Regions from separate parts of the Homo sapiens genome. Here regions 1 and 2 are each linked to region 3. Evidence: fine-mapped expression QTL. A gene starts in region 3. Each other region holds a variant in brackets. All regions are shown on one strand. Distances are from middle to middle.

The links. PIP is the estimated chance that this variant, and not a neighbour inherited with it, causes the effect.
Region 1: its variant is the best candidate, but not a certain one, in a credible set for the expression of KNDC1 in whole blood (TOPMed, PIP 0.77).
Region 2: its variant is the best candidate, but not a certain one, in a credible set for the expression of KNDC1 in whole blood (INTERVAL, PIP 0.67).

What each region holds. Positions count from the first base shown.
Region 1 is chr10:133,185,283-133,193,454 of GRCh38, reverse strand. KNDC1 (kinase non-catalytic C-lobe domain containing 1) reads right to left here. Exons shown (of 30, transcript NM_152643.8): 6 at 6,781-7,481; 7 at 4,802-4,916; 8 at 3,786-3,857; 9 at 3,642-3,703. Among named protein-coding and RNA genes, the nearest start is that of KNDC1, 29 kb to the right of the region's middle. The variant G/A (reference allele first, on the strand shown) is at 3,408.
Region 2 is chr10:133,217,685-133,225,856 of GRCh38, reverse strand. It overlaps KNDC1 (kinase non-catalytic C-lobe domain containing 1), which reads right to left. Exons shown (of 30, transcript NM_152643.8): 27 at 6,904-7,026; 28 at 6,767-6,826; 29 at 5,745-5,902; 30 at 1-1,198. The coding sequence ends at 967. LOC105378573 (a long non-coding RNA gene) reads left to right here and starts at 7,020. Exons shown (of 5, transcript XR_007062351.1): 1 at 7,020-7,174. RefSeq lists an enhancer at 139-762. The variant G/TG (reference allele first, on the strand shown) is at 3,575.
Region 3 is chr10:133,156,117-133,164,288 of GRCh38, reverse strand. KNDC1 (kinase non-catalytic C-lobe domain containing 1) reads right to left here and starts at 4,070. Exons shown (of 30, transcript NM_152643.8): 1 at 3,720-4,070. The coding sequence starts at 3,821. RefSeq lists enhancers at 2,519-3,109, 3,110-3,699.

The sequences.
Region 1 (8,172 bases), 29 kb before region 3:
CTCCCAGATTCCAGTGATTCTTCTGCCTCAGCCTCCCAAGTAGCTGGGATTACAGGCACCCACCACCATGCCTGGCAAATTTTTGTATTTTTAGTAGATACAGGGTTTCGTCATCTTGGCCAGGCTGGTCTCAAACTCCTGACCTCAGGTGATCCACCTGCCTCAGCCTCCCAAAGTGTTGGGATTACAGGCCTGAGCCACTGCACCTAGCCTGTTTCCTTAATTTCTGAAGGATATTTTTGCTGGAAATAGGTTTCTGGGTTGAAAGTTCTTTCAGAACTTAAAAAAATGCTATGCACTTCCTCTACAGTTACTGATGAGAAATCTGATCATCTGAACTGTTTTCCCCCCCCATATGTGTATATATGTAAGCTGCTGTTTCTCTCTCTTTTTGTTTTTTATTTTTATTTTTATTTTTTCGGAGAGGGGAGGGTTAGTATTCAGAGGTTTGACTATGATGTGTCCTGGTGTGGATTTCTTTGCATTGATCATGTTTGGGGTTTTCTCACCTTCTGAAATCTGTAGGCTTATGTGTCTTGCCAAAATTTGGAAGTTTTCAGCCATTATTTCTTTGAGTACTTTTTATGCACCACCCTCCTTCTCTTCTCTTTCCAGGATTTTGATGACATGGATATTAGATCTTTTATTATAGTCCCACAAGCTTCTCAGGCTCTGTTCAGTTCTTTTGGTCTATTTTCTCTTTGTTGTCCAAACTGTGTAATTTCTATTGTCTCCATTTCACCAATTCTTTCCTCTGCCCTCTCTATTCTGCTATTAAGCCCATTCATTGAGTTTTTTTAAAAAATCAGCTCTAAAATTTCCATTAGCTTTTTCTTTTTCTTTTCTATTCCTTGGTTGAAACTTTGTATTTCTTTGCTGAAACTTTTTCATTTGTTTCAAGCGTGTTTGCAATTGCCCAATGACGCATTTTTATGATGGTTGCTTTAAAAATTTTAAAGTCACTTTTAAAATTTCTGTCATCTCCAGGTTGGTATCATTGGTTGCCTGTTTTCATTCAGTTTGACATCTTCCTGATTCTTGGTATCATGAGTCCTTCCCCATTGCTTGATTTTGTCAGCTCTGTCAAAGATCAGATGATTGTAGGCGTGCAGCCTTATTTCTGGGCTCTCTATTCTCTTCCATTGGTCTATGTGTTTTTGTACCAGTGCCATGCTGTTTGGGTTACTGTGGCCTTGTAGTATAGTTTGAAGTTGGGTAACGTGATGCCTCTGGCTTTGTTCTTTTCACTTAAAATTGCTTTGGCTATTTCAGCTCTTTTTTGGTTCCATATGAATTTTAGAATAGTTTCCTCTAATTCTGTGAAAAATGACATTGGTAGTTTGATAACAATAGCATTGACTCTGCGGATTGCTTTGGGCAGTGTAGCTGTTTTACCAACACTGATCCTGCCCATCTGTGAGCATGGGATGTGTTTCCACTTGCTGGTGTGGTCTCCAATTCCTTTCAGCCATGATTTCCAGTTGTCCTTGCAGGACACGCTGCAGGGAAGGAAGGTCCTGGCTCCTGCTCACTTTCTTTGAGGCCACCTGGGGCCAGGGCAGGCACTGGACACTTCTCTGCAGTCTCACAAAGATGAGTCCAGGCTCCAGGCTCGGCCCTTGCTGGGCGGGGCCGCAGTGCTCCTGTGGGGTTTGGTTGGTGCAGAGCAGGGGGTGTAAATGCATCCTGGTCCTCCCTGGTCCTCTGATTACAGACCCAGGCTTTTGTTGGGGCATTTGTTTTACTTATTTTTTTGAGACTGAGTCTCACTCTGTCAACCAGGCTGGAGTGCAGTGGTACCATCTTTGCTCACTGCAACCTCTGCCTCCTGGGTTCAAGCAATTCTCCTGCTTCAGCCTCCCAAGTAGCTGGGATTATAGGTGCACACCACCACCCCTGGCTAATTTTTGTATTTTTAGTAGAGATGAGGTTTCACCATGTTGGCGAGGGTGGTCTCAAACTCCTAACGTCAGGTGATCGACCTGCCTTGGCCTCCCAAAGTGCTGGGATTACAGGTGTGAGCCACCACACCCGGCCCTGTTGGGGTATTTATTTTTTGAGACAGGGTCTGGCTCTGTCATCCAGGCTGGAGTGTAGTAGCATGATCTTGGCTCACTGCAACCTCCTGGGTTCAAACAATCCTCCCACCTCAGCCTCCCGAGTAGCTGGGATTACAGGCATGCGCCACCACACCTGGCTGGGATTACAGGCATGTGCCACCACACCTGGCTGGGATTACAGGCACGTGCCACCACACCCGGCTAATTTTTGTATTTTTAGTAGAGATGGGGTTTCGCCATGTTGCCCAGGCTGGTCTCGAACTCCTGGACTCAAGTGATCTGCCCGCCTTGGCCTCCCAAATTGCTGGAATTACAGGCGTGAGTCACCATGCCCGGCCAGTTGGGGCTTAAACTCTTTTTTATTACTCCAAAAAGCTTCATTTTTTCTTAGTTTTCTGACTCTGTGCTTGTGCCTCAGCACTTTCCCAGCGATTTTCGTTCCTTGAAGGGGAAAGCACTAACCCTGAAGGGATCCCACAGGAACACACACAGTGCACACAGAGCCACTGCAGCCTCACGGACGCGGTTTTTGTTTGAGACAATCTCATAAGAGCTTCAGGTCTCACAGCACCAACCCCCTGAGGTCGGCCTGGGCCACCTGCAGATGACAGTGCTTTCCCAGCCTTCTTGGTGTAAAGGTGAACGATCTATTGCTGGGGTTCAGGACAGCCTCTTTTCGTTACAGGCTAGACTGCAGGAAAGCCTTCGATGGTTTGGCAAATGGTGGACCATTCCGAGTTTCTCTAGACAACATCCCCAGAAGATGAAAAAGCGCGGCTTTTAGTGTGCGCCCATTGCTTTTTCCCGGTCACCGGCTTCTTTACCTCCAAGTCTCAATATGTGAGGCAGAAGGAAAACCCAGGGCACTCACGGCTGCCTTGTTCCTTGGTCCAGAGGCCCCTCGCCGGCTGCCGTCTCCTCCCCCTGCAGGTGGCCTGGTGCTTGTTTTTTGCACAGTGTGCAGGGTGCTTACTGCAGGGTGCTTAGTGCAGGGTGCTTACTGCAGGGTGTTTAGTGCAGGGTGTTTGTTTAGTGCAGGGTGCTTAGTGCAGGGTGTTTAGTGCAGGGTGCTTACTGCAGGGTGTTTAATGCAGGGTGGTTAGCGCAGGGTGCTTATTGCAGGGTGTTTGTTTAGTGCAGGGTGCTTAGTGTAGGGTACTTAGTGCTCTTCCTCGGTGGGAGGAGCGGGAAGTACACATTTCTATCATTCCTGAGTGGAAGTTTTACCTTGATTTTGAATGTAATTTATTGAATTGTATTTAAATTTGTGTAATTTAAATTTTAAGAATGCTCATGTTTCACAGGTGCCTTATACACATCCCTGGTTGTTTAGCCCTTAGTTCTCGT[G/A]AGCCAGGAGGCGCAGCTCTAGTGCACATGGCCAGTGCCGTCCACACCAAGCCCTGTCTTGGTGCCCCGGCCAGAGCCACGGCCCTGCTGGCAGATACCGCCTGTGGCCGCCTGGCCAGGAAGGGCTGCCCTGACTCCCTCGAGTCCTGATGGGGGGCTGCTGGACAGATGGGGGACGTGGCATCCCCGAGGGCTGGGGGCAGGGCTGGGGCAGGGTGGGGAGGGCCCGGGTACCTTTTCAGTTACCAGCCTCTCCTCTGCCAGCTCGGGAGCCAGAAAGAACGAGTCATAGGAACCTAAGAGAGAAACCCGACTGAGCTTTCCTCACCCCTGGCGAGCCGGTGCTGGACTCGGCCTGAGGGGAACCCACACACTCACCGTTGGCAGGGGGTGGCTGGAAGAGCACAGCCCCGTCCTCAGCAACCAGCACGGAGTCCAGACACAGGTAGGCTGTGGCAGAGCTTGGGTCAGGGCGGGTATGCATGCTGCCCCGCACTTGGGGCTGGCTGGGGGGAAGGAGCTGCGGAGCCTCAGTCAGGCCGGGCAGCCCCCCAGCCTCCCCATTGCACGGGCACGCACCTGCCAGTGCACGCACATGGCCTGACCCCAGCCCCCGGGGTCCTCGGAGCTGCCTCCTCCCAGCCCTCCCCGAGGGTAGCGCTGCCCCAGCCGACACAGTGGCTGCAGCGGCATATCTGCGGCTGAAAGGGAGCCAAGCGGCAGGGAGAACACGGTAACTTGAAGCCCCCGTGTCACAGGCCCCGTCCCGAGTCAGGGCCCACGGGGCAGCCACGGGCTCACGGTGGACGGACACTGGAGCCGGGTGTGTCTCCGATGGCCTCTCCCCCAGCCCTTTCAGATGCTGCCCTCATCACCCCCAGGACGTTTTTACGTCTCAGATGCACCGTCCGTCTGCCCTGATGTCTGGCAGGGCTAGGCTTTGACGGGGCAGACCCGTGCAATGCTGAAGATTCCCTCCCCACTCCAAAGCCAATTGCTGCCTCCCTGGGGACAATGTCACTGTGTTGAGAATGTGTGGGCGAGGGCCATGGCAAAGTCCCCGTTCCTCTTTACGGCACAGTCACCGGTTTCAAGGCCCACCTTGCAGGCATCTGTCCCCACACCTCCCTCGGTGCTGCAACCCAGCAGGCACCCACAAGGTGCTCCAGACGGGAGCCGCCTGTTCCGTTCACCGGAGACACTGTCCTGGCTGCCCCTGGGTCCCTTGGTTCAGGTGGGGGCCAGTTACGCATGGGACGGCAGGGGTGATGGGACAGTGGGGGGGCGTGGGACGGTGTGGGGGGTGGGACGGCGGGGGTGTGGGACGGCGGTGGGGGGTGGAACAGCAGTGGGGGGTGGGGACGGCGGGGGGGATGGGATGGTGCGTGCGTCACCTGGGTGCTCAGGGCGTGTCTGCAGTGCGCGGAGGCAGGCCAGGCACAGGGCCCACAGCTCGTACTCCCGGAAGGGCCGGCCCAGCTGGGACAGGAGGTCCTGCAGGGACACCCACTGTGGGCAGGAGAGCGGCGAGGTCAGTGTGGACACCCCTTGCCAGGGCCCGCCGCCTGGAGAGGCATGTCCGGGGGACAGGCCAGGGTGAGGCCCACTCAGCCCCTGAGTAGGCGCCCCCCACACCTGATAGAAGGGCTAGGGAGGTCCCTAAGTCAACTCCAGCGTGTGGGGGCCGTGGGGAGACTGGGGCCCTTGGCCCTGTGGGTGGGAACGTCCCACGGTGCAGCCACTGCAGACGACAGTGCTGCCGTTCCTTGAAAAGCTCAACATACACCTCCCAGGTGACAGCAGTTCCACACGGCCACATTCCCCGAGGAACCGAGGGCAGGGCTCACGCATACGTGCACACCCATGTTCCCAGCAGCACGGCTCGAAATAGCCAACACGGGGAGCACCCAGGCATCCACGGACGGACGCAGGGGCAGTGTGGATGGCGCTTGGCCTCGGGACAGGGATGGGGGGTTCTCACGCAGGCTCCCTGGGGAGGAACCGTGAGGACAGTGGGCTCAGTGAAGAGACCAGACACACAGCTCTGTCCATCCCACTCCCACGAGGCCCCTGGACAGAGCTCATGGAGGGGAAGGGTGGGACGGGGTGCAGGGGCCAGGCTCATGGAGGTGGAGGGCGGGACGGGGTGCAGGGGGCGGGCTCGGGGGTTGGGGTTTCGTGTGGGCTGATGGGGACAGCTGTGCAACAGCGTGAACACACCCAATGCCGCTGAGCTGTGCTCTTGCAGAGGGTTGAAGTGGTGGCTTTTGTTCGGTGCATTTTCTCACATACACACACACCGTGACACCAGGCATGCGTTCAGCCTGGGAGGCCACTCTCCACTCCAAGGCCTCACGGACAGCTGGGACCAAAGTCCACCCTCCAACAGGTGGCTCGGCCACCCTGTGCCTCCGTGTGCCCTTCGGGAAGGTAGGCTGTTGTGCGTGGGAAGGCGTGCCGCCAGGGAGAGTGGTGGAGGGCGACGGGGCACTGCGCCCTTGTCCTTCAGATCAACGAGGCCTGGTGGCTTGAGGGCACCCCCGTCCCCGGGCCAGGCGCTGCCTGGCAGATGGACTTGCATGCAGGCCACTGACTTCAGGTGACCTTGCCCGGAGGAGCTCACGGGGACACAGCTGGGGGTGGCTCACTGAGGAGCCAAGGAGGGCAAAATGCACTTGGCCAGGCCTTGGCCCAAGCGTCTTCGGCTGGACAGAGGGGCCGACGGACCAGGCCCCCCAGAACACTGGCTCCAACAGCATCCTCCATCCCTCGTGAGGAGCAGCTGACCAGGGGCAGCACTGGGCTGGGGAGGCCCCATCCTGTGTGGAGGCCACGTCCGGGCAGCCGCACCAGATCCCAGCGTCCCCGCGGAGGCAGCGGAGGTGGCCCAGCACCGACACCACCAAGCCCCACAGATGAGCAAGCTCAACCCACAGCTTTGGTTTCTAACTTTTAAACCGTCAGAATAGGAAGATGAGGAGGGCTGTGAGCATCAGGACTGGGGACACGGAGCCCCTGAAATGACATCACGGAGCCGGGGCTGCTGGCCTTGCTTCCCGGAAGAAAATTAATCCCTCGGGACGGCCGTGCGGGGCTGTGTGAGGAGCCGGGCAGGGCTGAGGAGGCGGCTGCTTTCTGGGTCATCCAGAGGCAAACGTCTACCCGAGAGGCCACGCCTGGGTGACAGCATCCCCAGCCGCAGCCACAGCTTCCTTCAGAAACGGGGCAGCTCAATGAAAATGTCTTTAATTATGGAGCGAGGGTGAAGGTTAATTCTCTGAGTTAAACAAAGCGTTTGCATCTGTGGAGAGGCCCGGCCCCGGACTCACTGACCGCCGACCCCTCCACCCACACACAAGACCCAGGCACCCACCTGCTCCGCGGCTGCACTTTCCAGCTGCCTAGCTCCTTCTGGAATTCTCTCATCGTCCCTGGGAGTCTGGGCTTCACCGCTAGCATCTCGAGGGTCTGCAGGGGCCTCTGCTGGCCCCTGGCTGGGGTGTGAAGTCTCGGGCTGTCCTGGACTGCCGGGCACCCCAGGGCCCCTGTCCGTGCTGCGGCCTGCACAGGGAACCCGTCCCAGCTGGTGTTCCGGCTCCTGCTCCGGCCACAGCCTGCATTTGGGCTGAGCCTGGAAGCTAGAAAGGCCATTTTTCCTGTCCAGAAAGGCCTTCCTGGGGTCCGGAGAGAATAATTCCGATATGGGCAGCTGGCTTTTCCCGCGGGTCAGCGGCAGGCAGAGGGTGGCCTCGGGGCTGTCGGACAGCAGCCTAGGGAACGTCTGCACCTTCCGCAGGCGGCTTCTCCTGAGGGCGTCTCTGTCCAGCTCCCCGAGGGTGCGCTCGGCATCCAGGACGAGGCCGGCCAGCCCCTCCCGGCTGTGGCTCTCGCCATTTCTCACCGGGGTGGACAGCAGAGCCTTGGTTGGGGAGGCTCTGGGGCCCCGGCTCGTCTCAGACTCCGGGCCTTCGGGGGTCGGCAGAACCTCCGGGTCAGTGCTGGGGTCCCCGGGCGGCCTCCTGGGCCCAGCGTTTCCTGGGGCAGGTCTCTCCCGCCAGCTGCTCTCGCTGACATCTGGGCACAAGCAAGATGTGGTCACGGCTGGGTGCCCCTCCCGCCCCTCCCCTCTCCTCCCGCCCCTCCCCTCTCCTCCCACCCCTCCCCTCTCCTCCCACCCCTCCCCTCCCACCTCTCCCCTCCCCTCCCCTCTCCTCCCCTCCCACGATCACAGACCCCAACCCAGGCTCTCACAGGAGGGGGCTCCCGCCTTCCTCTCCTGCCCCACTCATCAGGTCATCCTGGCTAATTAGAGGCTGGGGCTGCCTCTCCCCCAGGCCAGGCGGGGCTTCCCTCTGGGGCTTCCTATGGGAGCCTGGACCTAATTATCTCATCCAAAGGCACGTCGTTTTCCTCGAGGATTACACAGGTGAGTCCCCACAGGAAGAACCTGGATGATGTGGCTACGGCCGTCAGCGGCCGCCTCCCACACACGGCGTTGATCTCTCTCTGCTGTGTGTGGCTCTGTTCTGCCTACTTCACACTGCACACACTGCCTACTCCACACTGCACACACTGCCTACTCTACACTGCACACACTGCCTATTCCACACTGCACACACTGCCTACTCCACACTGCACACACTGCCTACTCCACACTGTACACACTGCCTACTCCACACTGTACACACTGCCTACTCCACACTGCACACACTGCCTACTCCACACTGTACACACTGCCTACTCTACACTGCACACACTGCCTATT
Region 2 (8,172 bases), 62 kb before region 3:
TGGGGTCCAAGAACCTGAGCAAGGGCAAGGGGCCGTGGAGGCAGCGCACTTCCTGTCTCTGGCGAAGCGTGAGTGTGTGGCGAGCTGTGGAGGCAGGGCTGCGGGCGCACATGCATGGCTGCTGGAGGCGGTGGGCAGTGGCGGTCCCTGGGGCATGAGATGGGTGGGGGCACTCTCAGGGACCCCCGCCACAGAGCCTCTGTCTTGGAGCTGCTCTGAGTGTCCTTTCCAGGAAGCAGGGCCTTTGCCCGGGCATGACCACCTCACCAAGGGCTGTTCTAAGCTGGGGGGCCCTGGGCCCTGGGGGAGCAGGCCCAGCCCAAGGTGCCTGCTCCAGCAGCAGGCCTTGGGCACCTGGGGGTCTGGGCTGGGGAGGAGGGGCACTGGGCAGGGAAGGGGAGAGCGGTTCTGGGTCTGGGTTGTGGGGGGTGAACCCAGGCAGGGTCTCGGACCGGAGGTCTCGGAGTCCCTGGGAGCTGCAGTTGGCCACTCAGAGGTCAGCTTTGGCCCTTCGTTGCTCAGCCAACCCAGGCTGGCTCAGAAACCTGCTCAGGGAGGAGCTACTCTGAAGTTTGTTGAGTTGGCGGTGGAGGCTGTTGCTGTTTTGTGGGGGAGTCACTGAGAGCTGGGTAAGAGCCACTTATCTGTGTGTGAGAGGCGCAGACAGGCACAAAACTCCTGGGAAGCTGTCTTTCATTTTCATTTTTAAATTTAACTTTTTAATTCTAGCAGAAACACGCAAACCTCCAAGACTCTTGTGCCCGTCCTGGCTCCGTCTGCTGGGAGGAGACCAGCTCTGCCTGTCCCCATGGGGTCCCCTGAGCCTCCACCTCCTGGTCCAGCTCCCCAGGGTTCGGGGGCGGAGGGGCCTTGATAACGGCCGGGCCTGAGACGCGGCTCCCACCTCCCAGCCCGCCCCCCACAGTCGGATTCGGATCTGGAATTCCACACCAGGCCCGAGCTCGGCTACTGGAATGTAGCCTTCATCCTCCGTAGCTTGTCCTGAATCTTCCGTGAGTGCTTCTCGCTGGAGACCTGGTGGAAGTTGGCCCTGCTATCTGCGGCGAGTGTGGAAATGTCGGCACCGCTGAAGCGGGCAATCCTCTGCTTGAGGTACGACTGGAGCTTGGGGTCGGGGCTGAAGGTGTAAGGGTTCTCCTGGAACGCGTGCACCTGGCTCACCACCTTTGCGATGTTCCTTCCGTTGAGGAAAGAAGAGACGTTAGTTTGCACAGGGCAGGGGCGCGGCTTCCGTGGGGAGGGAGTCCCCCCGCGTTCTTAGGAATCATTTGGACTAAATCTTTTCACCGTGTAAATTCTGAAGGGTGGGTTGTCTGTATTTATTGGCGAGGTGGAAAGGTCACTACTCAGACCTTTCCGTCTGTCTGACTGTCCATCCATCCACATTTCAGTCCACACACGCTTATGGAAACCCTGCAGGCTCAGGCTCGTCCCTGCTGAGCGTCCCAAGAAGAGTCAAGCCCAGTCTGCCGCAGGGGCTGCAGCTGAGAGGACGAGGCAGGCAAGGGACTCTCTGCTGCCGTGCAGAGCGTTCACATTCACACCTGGGAATCGCCACGGCCGGGGCCCAGGGCCGGAAGCCTGGGACAGCTGGTTGACAGTGACCAGCACACCATAGAATATAATGGAGAAAGCTGGCCAGTCACGAGCAGGAGCCCTCAGCCAGGCCTGGGGACACTGATGCCACAGACAGACGCCCTGTCCTGATTTTGGATGGAAACACCACATGCCCAGTGTGAGGGACAAAGAAAGGGGCGTCCATTACGGCAAAGAAAGGCCAAGCCTGGATGGGCTCTCACACACACACACGCCGGGAAGAGCATGCCTGGATGGGCTCTCTCACACACACACACACACGCCGGGAAGAGCATGCCTGGATGGGCTCACACACACACACACACGCCGGGAAGAGCATGCCTGGATGGGCTCACACACACGCCGGGAAGAGCATGCCTGGATGGGCTCACACACACACATGCCGGGAAGAGCATGCCTGGATGGGCTCTCACACACACACACACGCCGGGAAGAGCATGCCTGGATGGGCTCTCACACACACACACACGCCGGGAAGAGCATGCCTGGATGGGCTCTCACACACACACACACACGCCGGGAAGAGCATGCCTGGATGGGCTCTCACACACACACATGCCGGGAAGAGCATGCCTGGATGGGCTCTCACACACACACAGACACACGCCGGGAAGAGCATGCCTGGATGGGCTCTCACACACACACACACGCCGGGAAGAGCATGCCTGGATGGGCTCTCACACACACGCACACACACGCCGGGAAGAGCATGCCTGGATGGGCTCTCACACACATGCACACACACGCCGGGAAGAGCATGCCTGGATGGGCTCTCACACACACACATGCCGGGAAGAGCATGCCTGGATGGGCTCTCACACACACACATGCCGGGAAGAGCATGCCTGGATGGGCTCTCACAGACACACACACGCCGAGAAGAGCATGCCTGGATGGGCTCTCACACACACACACACACGCCGGGAACAGCATGCCTGGATGGGCTCTCACACACACACACACACACATGCCGAGAAGAGCATGCCTGGATGGGCTCTCACACACACACACACCGGGAAGAGCATGCCTGGATGGGCTCTCACACACACACACGCCGGGAAGAGCATGCCTGGATGGGCTCTCACACACACACACGCCGGGAAGAGCATGCCTGGATGGGCTCTCACACACACACACGCCGGGAAGAGCATGCCTGGATGGGCTCTCACACACACACACGCCGGGAAGAGCATGCCTGGATGGGCTCTCACACACACACACACGCCGGGAAGAGCATGCCTGGATGGGCTCTCACACACACACACACTGGGAAGAGCATGCCTGGATGGGCTCTCACACACACACACGCCGGGAAGAGCATGCCTGGATGGGCTCTCACACACACACACACTGGGAAGAGCATGGCTGGATGGGCTCTCACACACACACACACACGCCGGGAAGAGCATGCCTGGATGGGCTCTCACACACACACACACTGGGAAGAGCATGCCTGGATGGGCTCTCACGCACACGCACACACGCCGGGAAGAGCATGCCTGGATGGGCTCTCATGCACACACACGCCGGGAAGAGCATGCCTGGATGGGCTCTCACACACACACACACACGCCGGGAAGAGCATGCCTGGATGGGCTCTCACACACACACAGACACACGCCGGGAAGAGCATGCCTGGATGGGCTCTCACACACACACACACTGGGAAGAGCATGCCTGGATGGGCTCTCACACACACACACGCCGGGAAGAGCATGCCTGGATGGGCTCACACACACACACACACACCGGGAAGAGCATGCCTGGATGGGCTCTCACACACACACACACACGCCGGGAAGAGCATGCCTGGATGGGCTCTCACACACATGGGGATGCTGAGAAGGGCAGATCTGGAGGCGCTCACATACGCACGTGGACGCTGTGGAGAGCAAGTGCCACTCTTGGCTTGTTTTCTTTCCTGATTGAGCATCACCTTAAGTTTTTTTTTTTTTTT[G/TG]AGACGGAGTCTCGCTCTATCGCCCAGGCTGGAGTGCGGTGGCGCGATCTCGGCTCACTGGAAGCTCCGCCTCCCGGGTTCACGCCATTCTCCTGCCTCAGCCTCCCGAGTAGCTGGGACTACAGGCGCCCGCCACCGCGCCCGGCTAATTTTTTGTATTTTTAGTAGAGATGGGGTTTCACCATGTTGGCCAGGCTGGTCTTGAACTCCTGACCTCAAGTGATCCGCCCGCCTCGGCCTCCCAGAGTGTTAGAGTTACTGGCGTGAGCCACCGCGCCCGGCCCACCTAGGGTTACAGGCGTGAGTGGCTGCACCCAGCCCGGCCCACCTAGGGTTACAGGCGTGAGTGGCTGCACCCAGCCCGGCCTACCTAGGGTTACAGGCGTGAGTGGCTGCACCCAGCCCTGCCCACCTAGGGTTACAGGCGTGAGTGGCTGCACCCAGCCCGGCCTACCTAGGGTTACAGGCGTGAGCCGCCGCGTCTGGCCTACCTTAAGTTTTTAACTTCTCTTTTGCTGACATGGGTTTTCTGATCTCTTACGATAAGCATACATTTATGGCATATTATAATTATTGTTTTTAAATTGGTGGCTATCTAAGAAGGGGACCTTCACCTATCAGGCTGAGGATCCATGGGCACCTGGTCCGCTGAGCATTGCTCCCCAAGTGAGGCCATCTACCGTGGGGGAGGGTGGAGCCGCCGTGGCCTGGGCAGCCTCCACCTGACCGTGTGTGGACAACGGCAGGCGATGAGATGAGACGGGAGGGTGGGAGATTGTGTCTTGAGGGAGAGAGTGAGGCCGAGCTTGGGGCTGTGGGCACCTGAGGGTCATCGGACACAGGCCTGGGGCTCCAAGGAGAGGCTGGCCCCTGTGCCTTACCAGGTGGAAGAGCCTGTGTGGCCTGGGGTGTGAGCCCTGTGGGTCGTGGTGGTAGGTTTTACAGCCAGCCCCAGTCTGCGCCTCCCAGGTGGTGTGCAAGGTAGTTGGTCCCAGGTGCTGGGCAGGTGGACAGCAGGACCACAGGAACAGGCTGAGGACTGATCCTGGGTCCCACCTGGATGTCTCTAGGGAGAGGGGTTTCAAGGGGAGCAGGGACACTGTGGCACCCAGCGGTCAGGACAGGTTGCTGCCGGGCAGCCTCTGTGCTGCAGAGACCCTCAGGGTGGGGTGGAAAGTGTGCCTGGGTCCCAACACAGGGGTCCCTAGAGACCACGGGGAGTGTTTTGGGACCATGGACAGCAGAAGTGCAGGAAATGCTCCAGATTTGCAGAGAAGGAGGTGGCTGGAGGTTATCTTGGGTAGAGGGAGGTCTGAGGCTGTGAGTGCCAAGTGAGGGGCAAGGTACCCAGGCCTCTGAAAAGCAAGGACAGGAGGAGAGGTGCCACCTGAGCGTGCCCCACCTGGGCATGCGCCCATCTGAGCCCCTCCTCTGCTGGATGCGCGGCCACCTGAGCCCCTCCTGACCTGGGCGCGCGCCCGCCTGAGCCCCTCGTCTCCTGGGCGCGCGGCCGCCTGAGCCCCTCCTCACCTGGGCGCGCGGCCGCCTGAGCCCCTCCTCTCCTGGGCGCGCGCCCGCCTGAGCCCCTCCTCACCTGGGCGCGCGGCCGCCTGAGCCCCTCCTCTCCTGGGCGCGCGCCCGCCTGAGCCCCTCCTCACCTGGGCGCGTGGCCGCCTGAGCCCCTCCTCTCCTGGGCGCGCGCCCGCCTGAGCCCCTCCTCACCTGGGCGCGCGCCCGCCTGAGCCCCTCCTCACCTGGGCGCGCGGCCGCCTGAGCCCCTCCTCACCTGGGCGCGCGGCCGCCTGAGCCCCTCCTCACCTGGGCGCGCGGCCGCCTGAGCCCCTCCTCTCCTGGGCGCGCGCCCGCCTGAGCACCTCCTCACCTGGGCGCGCGGCCGCCTGAGCCCCTCCTCACCTGGGCGCGCGCCCGCCTGAGCCCCTCCTCTCCTGGGCGCGCGCCCGCCTGAGCCCCTCCTCACCTGGGCGCGCGGCCGCCTGAGCCCCTCCTCTCCTGGGCGCGCGCCCGCCTGAGCCCCTCCTCACCTGGGCGCGCGGCCGCCTGAGCCCCTCCTCTCCTGGGCGCGCGGCCGCCTGAGCCCCTCCTCTCCTGGGCGCGCGCCCGCCTGAGCCCCTCCTCTCCTGGGCGCGCGGCCGCCTGAGCCCCTCCTCACCTGAGCTTGCTCCACCTGTGGGCCCCGTTGGTCATGGTGAAGCCGCCTGTCTCCAGCTGCTGGATGTGCATGGCCAGGAGGTGGGCCGAGGGCAGGGTGGGCTGCGCCCGGAAGCGCCGCCCTTCCATCAGACACAGGCTGTCGCTCTTCAGGAAGACCTGGTGGTCCAGCCGGGGCGTGGGCCGGGGAGAGACAGGGCGTGGTCAGTGCAGGAGCCTCAGCCGGGGCCAGCGCAGCCCAACCAGTCCCAGCGGGTCCTGCGTTCTCCACGCACGGGGTCTACCCGGCTCTCTGAATTAGCTTCCAGTCCCGAATGTTCCTGGATGGTTGGACTTGGCTCACACCTGCGGGGTCTTAAGCTTTCACGGCCCTGACAGCCGCTGGGAGGTTTTGTGCCTCCTGCTGCTGAAATGGTGAGTCCCTTTCCTTGCTCTCTGCTGGACTCCAGGAAGTGCCAGGTAACCCAGCTTCCCTAAATGAGACCCCGGCTGACCAGAGCAGGGCCCCGTGTCTGCGTGTCCAGCAAAGACATGCAGGAGCCGTCCCACCCGTGGACAGCTGTGGCTGGGGCTTGAGGCCGAGCTCTGAGACCCAAGACGGGGACAGGCTGTGGCTGCTCTGGGACTCGTCTGAGTCATGTTTGGGGATGGCTGGTCACTTCCAGCAGCAATTCCTTGTTCATCATCTCATGAGGCCACCCCTGCCGTCCTGGAGGAGGTCCAGGTCGGTCAAGCTCAGGCCCCAGCCACAGACCTCAGTGCTGTCCTCTGGGCACCTGTGCTCTGTGTGAGGAACTCAGACCAGCAAGGCCCCGGGACCGAGCAGGTGGGACACCTCTGCCCAGGTGGCAACAGAGGCCCTGCCGGGAGATGACTCCAAGGCCTCCGTGAGGCCACCCTGGCTGGGCCACCTGCACACACTCTGTGGTGCCTGCGTCTGGGTGCGGCAGGCTCTGCACAGCAGTTCGTTTAGGAGAGGGCCTCGGGGGACCAAAGCCGCCCGGCCACGTAAAGTGCTGGTACCTCCACGGCTTTCAGCTCCTCCATGACCTCTGCTATCTTTGCAGGCAGAATTCTCCAGGCCTGAAATGAAAGCACAGGTGAGCCTCCTGCGGCCGTGCGGGTACCCACCCCCGCCTTGGGGCCCGAGGGGGACGCACAGGGGACTGCCTCACGGCCAGGTGCTCCAGCCCGCTCAGGATCTGCATGGCTGTCGCGAAGTTTCTCTGCTCATAGCAAGATTTTGCAATCAGCAAAAATTTGGACAGCAAGTTCACCTGCAGCTGCAATAAGAAAATGACACATTCAGCGTCTTCTGGTTTAAGATGAACAAAGGGAATATTTGAGAACCTGTTAAAATCACCCAGCTCCAAGACACAAGAGCGTGTGCTGCATCACGTGTGTGGAAAGGAAGCGGCTGTGTGGACGCAGGTGAGCGGTGGCCGTGGAGGGGCTGGGCTGGCGGGACGGGGTGGGCATGACTTGAAATAAAACAAAATAAAAGCAAAGCCTGATACGCGGAAAGACTTGAAAAGAAGTCCACCCTCACTTCTCAAAAGCAAGATTGTGCCTGGATGCACCTCCCCAGGCAGCTTCAGGACTGGGAAAGGCGACCCCACCCAGGGAGAGGCCGCTGTCGTGTCCACAGGCAGATGGGGAGCCACAGGCAGCTCCGTGCCCACCCCCCAACCCGCTGCGCCAAGCCCGTGGCAGGAGTGTTTGGGTGCAGTCCGGGGTGGGTGCCTGAGTGCCGCCCCCTCCTCCGGGGCTCTGTGGCTGGCGGTGACGACCTTGCTGGCCTTGGTTGGAACACCCCATGGGTGGTGAATGCCTCACCCAGCAGGATTCCTATTCTGAGCAGTCCCAAAGGGCTGCGTTCCTGGATCCACTTCCAGGGCTTCAGGAAGATTCTGGAGAACTCAGCTGACCCCTCCTGTTGTAGCTGCCTGTCCCTGAGGAATCACCTTGGCCTGGGCCATCCTTTGGTGGAAACCAAGGCTGCAGAGTCCAGCTGGACGCCATGCCCCGGATCGACTCTTTTTTTTTTTTTTTTTGAGATGGAGTCTTGCTCTGTGGCCCAGGCTGGAGTGCAGTGGCGCGATCTCGGCTCGGTGCAGCCTCCACCTCCCGGGTTCAAGTGATTCTCCTGCCTCAGCCTCTCAAAGTGCTGGGATTACAGGCGTGATAATTTTTGTATTTTTAGTGGAGACAGGGTTTCCCCATGTTGGTCAGGCTGGTCTCGAACTCCTGACCTCGTGATCTGCCCGCCTTGGACTCCCAAAGTGCTGGGATTACAGATGTGATAATTTTTGTATTTTTAGTGGAGATGAGGTTTCACCATATTGGCCAGGCAGGTCTCGAACTCCTGACCTCATGATCCACCCGCCTTGGACTCCCAAAGTGCTGGGATCACAGCCGTGATAATTTTT
Region 3 (8,172 bases):
CCAGCCCACCGACCACCCACCCTGCCCCTTACCATCCCTAGCAGGGCGTGCCTGGGTGAGCCATGGGGTAGGTCTGAGAGCAGGGACCACCTAAGACCTGTTCCTTGCAGGACAGGAAAGACTGGTCCCCACTTTGCAATTGTGTGGCCACGAACTCCACCCCCAACCCAGGTGGGAGGAGGGATTCGGGAAGGCAGGTGGACATGAACTCCACCCCCATCCCAGGTGGGAGGAGGGATTTGGGAAGGCAGGTGGACATGAACTCCACCCCCATCCCACGTGGGAGGAGGGATTTGGGAAGGCAGGTGGCCACGAACTCCACCCCCATCCCAGGTGGGAGGAGGGATTTGGGAAGGCAGGTGGCCACGAACTCCACCCCCATCCCAGGTGGGAGGAGGGATTTGGGAAGGCAGGTGGACATGAACCCCCGGGACTGGGCTGCTCTCCAGGGCAGCAGCACATCAGCCAGTCCCTGGGTCTCAGAGGGCAGGGCACGCTTCCCACCGAGGACCCTTATCTCATGGCAGGTCCCCATTAGGGGCCCTGTGCATTCAGAAAGCTCCCACACCCCCCGCCACACTGCCAGGCAGACTTCGAGCCAGGGTTACACAGGGACGCCTAGATCGTGTGGCGCATTTGAAATACACTGTCTTATGACCAACTGATTTTTTTCAGCCGTGGGATTCTAACAGGACTAATACAAAACTCCAATCACAGCTGGGAGCACTGGCTGCCAATCCCCAGGCCTCCTGACAGCTCTCTTCACACTGCCAGGCCCCCACCACAAAACCACCTCTGCTCCCGAGGTGCCTTCTGCTCTGAGCTCATCCTGGCACAGATGTCATATGGACCCTGCAGCGGGGACGTCCTCTTCTTTACTGGGAGCCCCCAGCTGTGTGCCCCTCCAGGGAGCAACTGCATCCTGTCCAGCCTCAGATTCTGAGCCCAGCCTGACACCGGCACACAGGAGGTTCTGGGAGGCAGTTGCTGAACTCTGGGAGGGATGATAGTGCTGCCTGCCTCTCAGGGACCCGGGACACGTCCTGCTCTGGCACCCAAACCGGTGCACCCTCTTCGTCTCATCTGAATTCCCATGGGGCAGCCAGCATTGCCCATCCATCGACTCCAGCCGCCTGGACTGTGTGCCTCTTCTGCAGCCGCTGTTCTGCCTGGATTGCACTGTTCTGCCTCAGATCCCATACCCCCATCCACAGTGACTGAAATCTCATGGGAATCCCGGGCAGGACACCTCCAGGAAGCCCTCCTTGCATCACCCCCACAGAACATCTCCCTGTCTATCGTGTACTGGTGGTTCTTTGCCTGTACTGGGATCCAACCTGGTCACTTCCTCCAGGACCTGCTGGCCCACTTGCTGATGCTCTGGTAGGTTCCAGCTGAGAGTGTTCTCACACACGCACGGCCACGTGTCTCTGGGGCCCACACCATAGTGAAGTTGCTGGGACACAGGGCACTGGTGCCTTCTACTTCACCAGCGAATGCTGGGCTGTTTTCCAAAGAGGCTGCTCCATTTGTCCTCCCACTGGCGCGAGGGAGAGCTGCTGCGCCGTCCTTGCCAGCACAAGCCGCTGTCCGCTCTTCAGTTCTTGCCAGCCTGGCGGTCTTGGGAAGGCATTCGTGGGGGTGTATTTTGCATTTTCCTGATTGCAATGAGCAAACATCTTTTCACATGTTCAGCAGCCATTTGGATTTTCTTTGGGACCATGTCAAGGGAGGGACATTCCAGGGGCTCCGGTGGGTGTCCATAGGGGTCTATTTCTTGACCCCATCATGGAGCCAGCCATTATAATTAGCTGTAGAATGAGTGAGTTCCTACATCTTATGAAGCCTGCATATGTCCTGGGCCTGGCGCCACCGTGCTTTCCCGGCAGCTGCCCTGCACCCTTGGCCTTCCGGCATTCTGGGATGATGATGCAACCTCACCGTGCCCTCACCTCACCCAGGACGGTTTTCCCATGCAAGTCAGGTGCCCCGATGGAGATTTCAGAACCTTCCAAGCCAAACACGTGTGGGAAGCAGAGTCTGAACGCCAGGGGAATTCTGAGACATGGGGTGTGTTGGGCTCAGTACTGGGCACAGGGTTGGGCCAGGGACCACCCGATGCTTTCCAGGAGTGTCTGCGAAGGGCCCACCTGAACGTTCCCACTGCACGCTGCAAACTCGGTGGGATGACAGTTCACCTGGAGGCCTTGGTGGACGTCACAGGATGGAGCCACCCACCCCAGTACTGTGCCGGCCGGGAGCTGTCCGGCCGGCCCGAGGACACTGGTGTGTGCGTGGGGGTGGGGAGCGGGAGTGGGGAGTGTGCAGAAAGACAGCCTGTGGCTCCAAGTGGGCTCGCGCCTGGCGCGGCGTGTTGTGTGCGTGGCACCGGCTGCTGCCTCCGTGTGCGGAGCGGGGAGGCCCTCAAGGCTCAGGCCTCTGATGCACGAAGGAGCTGTGGGAAGAGCTGCGTCCTCAGGGCCGCCTCCTAACAGATACCCTGGGATGTGTCCTGGGGCGTTTCTGAAGGCTGCGGGCTGCCCCTCCCTCTCGGTCAGAGCCGAGGTGATCTTGGAAGCTTTATTGCCTCCCCTGGCTGCTCCTCTCTGCAGCCTTCAACTGCACCGAATCCAGGCCATGGTGGGGGCGGGGGCATCGCCAACCCCCGCACAGCCTCAGCTGTTTCTAGGTGGCTGGGCCGAGGGCCTCCTGGGGCTGAACCTTCCCAGAAGGACGGTGCTTCCACAGCAGAAACTCCCGGTCCCTTCAGAGCCCACTCCCCTGGGGCAGCAGGTGGGGACTGCGAGGGGGTCAGGCCCGCGGCTGCTGCAGCCGGGATTCCCTGCTCCAGGCTTACTTGGCCGGCTTTAAAGAGAGGGCGCCACAACATCCCACTAATGGCTGCAGGTGACGACGCTGTCACCCGGAGACGCAGGCGCCCAGCGTCTGGGCTCTTGCCTGTTGGAGGTTTGGCAGATCTCGGATCCCTGGAGGGTGAGGGTCCCTCTGGGAGCTGCTGTATCCCCTGGGGGCCACCTCTCATGCTTCCGGGCCTGGCTTGTCCACTCCATCCCAGCCAAGCCAGAGCTGAGCTACAGGGTCAGACCCAGCCAAGGTGGCGTCTGGGCAGCCGGTGCTGTAGGGTGGGCGGTCCATGAGCAGAAGCGCCAGGGTATGCAGATGGCAGGCAGAGCCCCTCTGCACCTTGCGGGGTAGGGGGGTCTTGGGTGAAGGCCCGGAAAACCAGAGAGCAGGAAGCAGCTCTCAGTCTCGGGGGGCAGTCATCCAGCGCTCCCCCCACCCCCCGCTCCTGAACCTCAGCTCCGGGGACCTCATCCCCCAGCTCCTGAGCGGCGCCTGATTGGACTCTGCTGCTCTGCACCCCGCTGGCCTCCTGGGGCCCGGCAGGGAGTAAGCAGACCCCCCTCCGTCCTCCTTGCTGCCCCCACACTGTCCCGCCAGGGTTTCCACCAGGAGCTACCGCGCACCAACTTCTGCAGGGGCTGCCCACCCGCCGCCGTCCCGTGCGCATTCGGGGGTGCTGTCCCCTCCGGGTGAAAATCCTAACGCGGGGGCTGAGAACGGCGGTGGGAACCCCTCGGCCATGGAGGGCGCCTGGGGAGGCGGGAGCTCACAGCCCCTCCCGGGTCCTCCCCCCGGGCGCTCTCCGCGGACCCCTCGGCGGCGGAAGGGGCCCCCCAGTGGGGCCGGGGGCTCACCTCGTCCTCGGGGAGGGTGGGCAGCGGCTCGAAGTCGTAGAAGTCCAGGTCTTTGCCGTCCTCCTCGTAAAGATCCGCCGCGGCCGGGTCCATGGCCTGCATCCTGCGGCCGCGCCGCGCACCGCCCCCGGGGCCTCCGGCTGGGCTGGGCTGGGCTCGGCTACGCGCGCCCTGGCTCCATGGAGACGCGCCCGGCCCTCGCCCGCCCCCGCCCGCCCGCCGCTGCCGCAGTGTCTCCAGGGGACGCGGTCAGGGATACGGGGCGGGCCCGGGGGGCGCGGGGGGCGCGGGGTGCGCGGGGGCTGCGCGGCGCTGTCCGGACCCGGCGCCTAGGGAACGTCGCTCCTTCCTGGGGGAGGCACCGGGGGCGGAGCCAGGCGTGTGGCCTCCGCGGGGAGCCACGGGGTCTGCGCCCCACCTGGGCCCCAAGGGTCGAGGGGCGGAGCCGGCGCCCAGGAAAGCTCGGACGGGCAGACCCCCTCGCCGGCTCCCGCCGCCCCCGTCCCACCCCCGCTGCTGCCGGGCGGGGCTGCCGCAGTCCCGGGGTGGCCTCTGCAGCGGCGTTGGGCAGGGCCGGGCGGGGCCCGGGGTGGGGGGCGGGGCCCGGGGTGGGGGGCGGGGCGGTCGCTGGGCCGGGGTCTCTCCTGAGCGAGGGTCTTTCGGAGGCCCGGGGATGTTGGGGGTGGGGCAATAACGCTGCCTCATCCCCACCTGGAGGCATCGGAGAGACCCACTGGGCACCCGACCCTCCCCGGTCCTGGGGGACCCTGGGGGGTCCTGGGGCTCTTGACCTCTTCCTGCCCCAAAGGCCCCCCGGGGCTTTCTTCAGCGCCAGGGTGACCCCGGCCCACGGTAGTGCCGCGGTCAGAAGAGCCAGGATAGCCCCAAGCTCGGCCAAGAGGCAGGGAGGGTGGAGGAGAATCTCACCTTCCCCGGCCACCCCCAGAACTCCCACAGGAGAGAGGGCGGCTTCAGGGCCCGGCTGTCAGCTCCCCGTCCGTGTGGCTGGCCAGGCACACAGTAGGTACTTAATCCATGCTCCTGGCTTGAAGGAGCAGCAGGGCTTTTGACCGCAGAGTGGGAGGGTGCAGTGTGTTCAGGGACGTGAATTCCCAGCACTCTGTCCCCTGGTCGGTCACCCGGGCTGTCACTCTGGCCTGGCAGGGAGTTCAGGGGCTCAGCTCCCCGGGAGCCAGGTGGGCACTGAAGCCGGAGGCTGGGAGTGGGGCAGGTGCTGGGCAGACTCCCTGCGTCCAGCCAGGCAGCCCCACCTTATTGAAAATGCCCACCCTGGGGCCCACCCTGGTCCACCGAGTCAGCAGTCAGGTGCAGCCTCCCCCATCCTTGGGTGTTTGGAAGCTTGGGCAGCAAGCCAAGGTGGAGTGGGCTGGAGCTGGAGAGGAGGAGTCTCACAGAGGGTGGCCTCAGCCAGCTGTCCCTGAGCTCTCTCTCTGTGGGCCCCACAGGGCCTGCAGCGCCCCAGTCCCTGTCTTGGAAGGAGGCGGAAGTGGCAGGCAGACTCTGCTCCAGGAGCCTGATCCCGCTGCACCCTGGTGCTCAGACCTGGACATTGGAGCTGAGCCCCTGGGCTCCTGGGCCCTCTGCTGCAGGGCTGGGGCCGCCTCCTTTGTCAGGTCTGGATGTGCCCCTGACGCCTCTCAGCTGCCACCCAGACTTGTGCCTCCGGGGGAACGCCGGGCTGACGTGACCCCAAAGGGAAGGCACCAGGGACCCCACAAGCACAGGACTTTGTCACCGAGTGCCCAGGTCACCTCACGGGCTTGGGGTGAGGATATAGACACTGAATAGGGGGCAAAGGTAACCCCATAATTTGGGGGGCAGCCATAGGGCAAGCACTCCTGGAAAGACGTGCATGCGGTTGGTAAAATGCAGAACTCACAGGCTCCTGGAGTCGGCCGTGTCAGCTTCGGCTGTTGCGGCCTAAAACCCCTCAGCAGGCATTTCCCACACCTGGGTCACTCAGCGCTGCTGCTGCTCAGGGCTGGGCACGTGGGGAGGGGCCTCGGGCAGGGGCCGCAGGCTCTTTCTTTTACGCACCTGCTGCTTTCCTTTAAAGATTTGTGGGCTTTGGTCTCTGTTGTTCTGGGGAGTGGTGGGAACTTCCAGACGTTTTGCGAGTTGTCCCGGGCGCCCGCACACTCGCCTGCAGTGATAAAGCTTTGACCCAAGTGGAGGGTGCGATGTCGGTCCTGTGTCCTGGCACCTCAGTTATGCTGGACGAGGGCGCAGTTCCTCCAGGGTCTGGATTCATCGCCCCACGTCTTCTAGAGCTGGTGAGCAGCTTCTGGGTGCCACGCGGAAACGGCCAAGAGCCCTCCGTGAGCCACAAGGAACGGCCTCCTCATCAAGCCCTCCTGCCTCTCGGTGCCAGCCCTGTGTGCCCAGCATGTGCTGGCACAGCTTCCTCCCGAGGATGCTTGTGGTGGTGTCGGAATTCTGAGGGGCTTCCCAGCTGCACGATCAGGTCCGTGGTCCAGGGCCATGACTTGGTGGCACTTTCGTCCTCTTCCAACTCTTCCATGGCCTCTACCCATCCTCTGCCCCACCCCACTGCCCTTTCCCACCAGACGTTCCCCTCTGCTAGAGGCAACAGCCTGAACTGTGGCTCCTGGCTGGAGTGAGGAACCTGGTTCCTCCCTCCCTGCCCAGGCCCTGCCCACCCTCCCTCCTCCATGAGGGGCCCAGGGTAGGACTCCCAGATGCTTCTCCTGAGACCTTGCTCCGAGGGGGTTACCGGGCCCTTGTCACACCCGGACGCTGTCAGGATCGGCCTTGTCCTTCTCACTCGGTCTCCCACAGTCGGCGCTCAGCTGGACTGGGCTGCGTGCTGAGGCGGGTGGAGCAGGGGTCTTCAGGGCCTTGGCTCTCGTTTTCCCTAAAACAATTTTGAAAAGCTGCCAAATCACTCACACATGTTGACGTCAACATCCAGGTTTCTTAAAAAATCCAGACATGTAAATGATGGCAAATAATGTCATTTCTGGTGTGATGTAAATACTCACATTTTGAAGTAAAATTGTTAGTCACTCCTGTAAATGTATCTAGGAAGCTAAATGCCAAAATGGTTTTGATACCTACTGTCAGTCGTTTAAAGAATTCGTAAACACATTCTTCTCTAACAGTCCGAGATCTTCGTGCTGACATTTTTCCTCAGACGCATCATAGCCATCTGGTTTTTGCCCAGATTGTATCTGACGATGAATTATTTTTATGCCCGAGTTTCTGTTGGCTCCTCATCACACTTTGCAACAAATACACATGTAAATTTTAATAAATCAGATATTTAGTAAAGAAAAAAAGGAAATGTGGAAGTAAATGGCGGTGCTCCTGTTAGAGATTGGGAGCCGGCACGCGGGAACCGTGGACCACGACTGGCTTCTGCGGGGAGCTGCCCTGTGGCTCTGGCGGAAACACGGTCTCCTCACTTTGTCTCTGGGCGCTGGGCTGGCCCTGTCCTGCCAGGCTCACCCCACGGGGGAACCAATGCGGCTGGGAGCAGACGGAACCCCCGTCCCTCTGTGCGTGTGTGTATTTGTGTGTATATGTGTGCGTATGTGTGGGTATTTCTGTGTCTGTATGTGTATGTGTATTTGTGTGGATGTGTGTGTATATTTGTGTGTGTATGTGTGTATGTGTATTTGTGTGTGTATTTGTGTATGTGTGTGTATTTCTGTGTCTGTGTGTATGTGTATGTGTATTTGTGTGTATGTGTGTGTATTTGTGTGTATGTGTGTGTATTTGTGTATTTGTGTGTATTTGTGTATGTGTGTGTATTTGTGTGTGTATTCGTGTGTGTGTATTTGTGTATGTGTGTGTATTTGTGTCTATGTGTGTGTATTTGTGTGTGTGTTTATTTGTGTGTGTGTATGTGTGTGTGTATTTGTGTGTGTGTGCGTGCATTTTTCCTCAGTGTCTCTGAGATTCAACCATGTTGTTATGGGTAGTAGTAATTTATTGATTATTGTTACTGAATTGTATTAAATTACATCAATACCCCACAGTGGAGGTTCTCTTTCCAACGACGTCAATACCCCACAGTGGAGATTCTCTTTCCAACGACGTCAATACGCCACAGTGGAGGTTCTCTTTCCAATGACGTCAATACCCCACAGTGGAGGTTCTCTTTCCAATGACGTCAATACCCCACAGTGGAGGTTCTCTTTCCAACGACATCAATACCCCACAGTTGAGGTTCTCTTTCCAATTACGTCAATACCCCACAGTGGAGGTTCTCTTTCCAACGACATCAATACCCCACAGTTGAGGTTCTCTTTCCAACGACGTCAATACCCCACAGTTGAGGTTCTCTTTCCAACGACGTCAATACCCCACAGTTGAGGTTCTCTTTCCAATGATGGCAATACTCCACAGTTGAGGTTCTCTTTCCAATGACATCAATACTCCACAGTTGAGGCTCTCTTTCCAATGACGT